Regions from separate parts of the Homo sapiens genome. Here region 2 is linked to region 1. Evidence: fine-mapped expression QTL. A gene starts in region 1. The other region holds a variant in brackets. All regions are shown on one strand. Distances are from middle to middle. Region 1 holds the start of FNDC10 (fibronectin type III domain containing 10). Region 2 overlaps NADK (NAD kinase).

What was found.
Region 2: its variant is fine-mapped to the expression of FNDC10 in whole blood (INTERVAL, PIP above 0.99).

The regions. Positions count from the first base shown.
Region 1 is chr1:1,598,843-1,601,604 of GRCh38, forward strand. FNDC10 (fibronectin type III domain containing 10) reads right to left here and starts at 1,293. Exons shown (of 1, transcript NM_001242659.2): 1 at 1-1,293. The coding sequence starts at 1,173. The coding sequence ends at 493. It overlaps LOC105378586 (a long non-coding RNA gene), which reads left to right and starts at 591. Exons shown (of 3, transcript NR_147951.1): 1 at 591-774; 2 at 1,815-1,864. RefSeq lists enhancers at 1-446, 447-1,106, 1,107-1,766, 1,767-2,426 and silencers at 900-1,019, 1,320-1,369.
Region 2 is chr1:1,761,706-1,764,467 of GRCh38, forward strand. NADK (NAD kinase) reads right to left here. Exons shown (of 12, transcript NM_023018.5): 3 at 247-330. Among named protein-coding and RNA genes, the nearest start is that of NADK, 15 kb to the right of the region's middle. The variant A/AAATG (reference allele first, on the strand shown) is at 1,054.

The DNA of each region.
Region 1 (2,762 bases):
TGCAGTGGGCCCGAGATACTAAGGCACGAAGCTAACCTAAGCCCAGTGGGGTGGGGCGGGGCAGGACAGGCTTGGAGAGCTGCGCCCCAGGCCTGCAAAGCACAGTGACCGAGCAATGGCGACGGTCTGTCTGGGACAATTCGGCACAGGATGGAGGTGCGGGGTGAGCCGGAGTGCCCATGGCTCTTGCTGGAAGGGGCTCCATGCCCTGGCCGCCTCTATAAAGGCCTGCGGAGAGCGGGGAGAGCCCTGGATGCGGCTGGCACAGCAGCGCAAGCCCAGGGGCCAATCCGGGGCCAGAGTCTGGGAGTCTGACGCCCGGCTGGAAAGGGCGTGTGATGATGCCAAAGTGCCGGAGCCGTCGCCGGCAGGTCCTCCTCCGCGGGGATCTTAAGGAGGCAGCAGGAATGAGGAGAGGAGAGCGGGCGGAGGACCTGGGAGCTCAGGCGCCCTCAGGCAGGTGGCGCAAAGATGGGCGGGCGGCCTCGCGCTTCAGGGGTGTCTGCGCAGGCCGGGGCGCGCGAGGGCCGGGCGCATGAGGTTCTCGGTGATGTAGGCCACCAGCAGGCAGATGACCACCAGCATGACGCAGATGGAGCCGCCCACCGCCGTCATGGCCACCACGATGTCCTGCATGCCGGCCGGCTCGGCGGTGAACTCCACGCACTCGGCCGGCTCGGGGGTCTCTGGCGCGGCGGCGGCGGGCCCAGCGCGCAGCGGCAGCGGCTGCAGGCACAGGCGGTAGAGGACGCTGTCGTGCACGTCGGGCAGCAGGTAGTCGCGGCAGGAGGCCCCGAGGAGCACGCGCTCGCACGGGAAGCGCGTGTAGGCGCCGCGCCACGAGCAGTTGAGCGCGAAGGCGCGCACGCGGCGCGCGGCGGCCGGGGCCAGGCGCCACTGCAGGAGGACGCTGCGGTTGCGCAGGACGCTGGCGCGCAGGGAGCGGCCGGCCGGGGCGTGCAGCACGCAGCCCGGAGCCTGGCAGCGGAAGCCGCGCGCGGGGCTGCGGAAGCACAGGCGCCCGCCGCCCGCCTCGGGGCCCTCGGGCAGCACCTTGTAGGGGCACCAGGGCGCGTCGGGGGTCGGCTCCCAGCCCGGCGGCGTCGGGGCGGCCGCGGCGCAGGGCGGCGGCGCGCAGGCGGCCAGCAGCAGCAGCAGCGGCGGGGCGCGCATCCTGCGGCGGGGCCACGGGGCGCGGCGCTGGGTCACGCGGGCCGCGCCGCCGCCGTCCCCGCTGCCCGCTCCCCGCGATCCCCGGCGCGCCGCGCCCTCCGCCGCCGCCCGCTCCGACCCGCCCCCGCGCCCCGTGCGCGCTCGGACCCGGCGCGGCGGCGGAGGCGGGGCCGCCCCTCGCCCCGCCCCCCTTAACCCTCGCCGGGCCGCGGCCTACGGGTGCGGGGGATCGGGGGTGGGGGGGAGGAGGGGGACGCAGCGAGGCGGCCGGAGTGCCGGTGGGGCTGGGGTGCGGGCAGGGGCGCGGGGTGCGGGCAGGGCCGCCGCTCTCCCGGCTTCCCGCCTAGTGAGCGCACCTTGGACCCCTGCGGCTTTTCCGAGCCGAAACTCACGGGCTGTGGCCGGCTTCGTTTCGCGTCGTGCAGCTCCGCGACCGCCCGTGGCCACACCAGTCGGGGACTTCGTGCTTTACGATGGGGGCGCAGCGGTCTGGCACGCGCAGGACCCCGGGCCTTGCACCCCAACGCTGGCCGCCCTGGACCCGCGGCGGGGACCCGCGCAGTCAGGGTACCTGCCCATACCGATGGGGTGGGGACCAGCACGGAGACTTTCCTTCACCCCGCGGCTTCTGTTCCTTTCAGGACGGACAGCGCCCACCCGGAGGAAAGCCTGACAGATGAGACTTCGCAAGGTGAGAACTCCCTTCGCTCCACACGCAGCGGAGGCAGCTGCAGGGCGCCGACCTTCCCTGCCTCATTGCGCCCCCTCCTCCTCCAGATGCGCTCTGGGGGGCCCTCCCGATGGCTGTGGGGAGGTCAGGGCTGGACAAAGGGAATCCAAAAAGCCCACCCGGTGCACTGAGTAGGTGGCACCGACGGGGGAGGGGAAGGCGGGACACACCCCAAGACCCCTGCCCCTCATTCCCGTCCCTGCATAGATCACCCAGCAACCAGGACACCCCTCCAGGGCCAGGACTACAGCCAGGGACTGTGTATGCAGACGTGGCCGGGCCTGGCCGGCCTGCCCTAACTGGAAAGGAGGCCAAGCCTCGCACCTAAGGCTGGGCTGGCACCTCCGCTGAGCCAGCTCTGGGTCTGCAGGGGTTGTGGGGGGCTCTCTGGCAACTGGACCATGAGTTCCTGCAACCCCTTCCTGTGCTCTCCTTGCCTGGGGGCAGAGTGAGGAGAGACTGGCTATTCTGCTCACGGTGTCCTTGGTCCCCGACCTCTGGATGGCCATGTCTCCGCCCCCCCACGGAGTCACCACCCAGCCTCACGAATTCCTGGTCATCTTGAAAAACCCAGTGCAGTGGTCAGGACCCCACAGGATCTCAGGGGCTCTGCCAGAGCCCCGGCCCAGCGGTCAGGCCCCCACCAACTGTGGTCACGGTGCACCTCCGTCCCCGGCATGGAGGGCCCTGACCCCCTACACCAGCCTGTTGGGCCCCTGGCAGGGTCTGCTGAGGCCTCTGCACCTGGCGCAGAGAGGTTGGGGGCAGAGACCTTGGGAGAGGCGCTCCCTGCCCCCTGCCCCCAGCTCCCACCTCTGCTTAGGAAGGGCAAACCCTGGGCTCTGACTCTTGCCCCAGC
Region 2 (2,762 bases), 160 kb after region 1:
CTGGGGAGCCCCCGCTCGGATGCCTGCACTCAGGGGGTTCAGGGAGGACGCCCATGTGGCTTTTTGTTTAAATGACCTAAACATGTACTTCTCACATGAAGTGCTAGAATCTTCCTCAACACAGCGATCCCACAACTCCACACACATCCCGAGGACTCCCCCATCCCATGGCCCCCGGCACTCACATGATGGTCTAGGGGTTCTCTCCCTTCCAAGAACCCCCCGTCCTGGGGCCCCAGCACTCACATGATGGTCTGGGGGTTCTGCAGCACACAGGCCTTTGGTCCAAAAGTGGTCACCGGGCATGGCCCATGAAGAGAGCGTGTCCTCCTGTGGGGAGAGGGCAGTGTCAGAGCCACCAGGGCCTGAAACCAGACATGCAGTGACAGACACAGATACAGAGGAGGTTACACGGTAAGGCATACATGCAATTTGAAAGATGCCAACTCCATCTGCCCAGCAGCCACACAATAGCCCTTGGAAGGTTCTGCCCAGGTCCATGGCTGCACTGGAGCGGCACCTGTGAGGAGCACGCATGCCCACGCGCCGCTCAGATCATGACCCAAGCCGGGGAGAGCTTCAGCCCAAACAAGGAAAATGCCAGGGCCAGGGCCAGCCTGGGATCAGAATTCCTCAGTGTCTCCAGGACCCCTCTCTAGATCTGCATTTGGGACTCAAAACCTGAGACAACATCTCATCTCTAAATCGTCTAGATTAAAATTCTAGCACAAATGTTCACTCTGAACTCATGTCAATAAAAAAGACGTAGGCCGGGCGCAGTGGCTCACACTTGTAATCTCAGCACTTCAGGAGGCTGAGGTGGGTGGATCACGTGAGGTCAGGAGTTTGAGACCAGCCTGGCCAACATGGTGAAACCCCCATCCTTACTAAAAAAAGAAAAATTAGCCAGGCCTGGTGGCGTGTGCCTGCAGTCCGAGCTACTCAGGAGGCTGAGGCAAGAGAACTGCTTGAACCCAGGAGGTGGTGGTTGCAGTGAGCCGAGATCGAGCCACTGTACTCCAGCCTGGCTGAAAAAAGTGAAACTCTGTCTCA[A/AAATG]AATGAATGAATGAATGAATGAATGAATGAATGAATAAAAGACGCCAGATGAACGGCTCAACAACTTTCCTAGTGATTTAAACATGGCCAGGTCACAGTTAAATCACCCAGCCAGGGGCTGTGGCAGCCGCACGCGTCCTGGGGAGAATGCTGTCAGGACCGCTGTGCTCCTCAGGGTCCAGCACTGAGGCTGCCCTCGTCCTAGGTGCCCGGGAGCCTCCCAGTCCCTTCACAAACTCAGAAAACTTGCACACAGCTGGCCAGGCAACGGCCCAACAAAATCCTCAAGTCCCAATGCAGAAGAACGGCCTTCCGCTGCCTCGCAGGGCCAGACAACCCCAGGAGAGCCGTGGTGCCCTGAGGGCTGCTCCACAGGTGACACAGGCGTGGCCATCAGTGGTCACGGACTTGTTTACCTCAGCCTTTTAAAAATTGGTAAGTACAGGCCGGGTGCAGTGACTCACGCCTGTAATCCCAGCACTTTGGGAGGCCAAGGCAGGCGGATCACGAGGCAGGAGATTGAGACCATCCTGGCTAACACGGTGAAACCCTGTCTCTACACAAAAATACAAAAAATTAGCCGGGCGTTGTGGCTCACGCCTGTAATCCCAGCACTTTGGGAGGCTGAGGTGGGCGGATCACCTCAAGTCAGGTGTTCGAGACCAGCCTGGCCAACATGGTGAAATCCCATCTCTACTAAAAATACAAAAATTAGACAGGCGTGGTGGCATATGCCTGTAATCCCAGCTACTCAGGAGGCTGAGGCAGGAGAATCACTTGAACTCGGGAGGCAGAGCTTGCAGTGAGCCTAGATCACACCACTGCACTCCAGCCTGGGCGACAGAGCAAGACTCCATCTCAAAAAAAAAAAAAAAAAGAAGAAGAAAACGAAGTACATTACAAAAGAATTTTACTTACTTACGAACTGAAAAGATTATTGCGGAAAACAATGTTTCTCGAAGTGGGTGTTGGGATTTAATGTTTCCTTCCCAAGGACAGGCTATGCTTGGGCGTATTTGGCTACCTCCTCCCCCACCTCACCCTGAAGGCGCCTGTCACTCACTATGGAGGCGACCTCTGACCCAGGGCTGCTGTCATCAGGTTCAGAATGCAACAGAAATGGTGCATTATGCCAAAGAACCCACAGGAAAAAAAAATAAAACCCCAAAGCAATTCTGTTCACGCAGTCACTGCGCTGGGGTGGCCTGGAGGTACAGGACAACGACCCCCACTGACAACGAGGCAACGAGGCATCTGAGAAAGGCTGAGTGGTGACGTGGTGCCTGCGGGATGAAGGCAGCCACCAGCGCTCGTAGCCTCCTGGCTCAGGCAGCGACTCTGTAGACAGAAAACGTGGGAGTAGCCTGTTTCTCCACGGCTGCCACCACGTCAGAGGCGCTACAGGCTCTCCCATCTCACTGGGTAAGACAACATGCTTTCTAAGACTACTTTTCACCAAAAAGCCCCCCTTGCATTTGATAGTCGTGATCCTTGTTAGGCAGCGCCGGCTCTGGCAAGCTTCCACCTAAAACTCACCACATTTACCATCACCAGAACCGAGAGCACCATCCCCAGGCACCATCACAGCTGTGCTTGTGCGGCCACCGTCATGCAAAGCCCGGGGCGCTGTTGCCCAAGCAGCATTGTGCAAGGGTGAGCGCTGTGGGCACTCTTGGCACAGGAGGGAGCCACTTGCCCAACATGTGAGA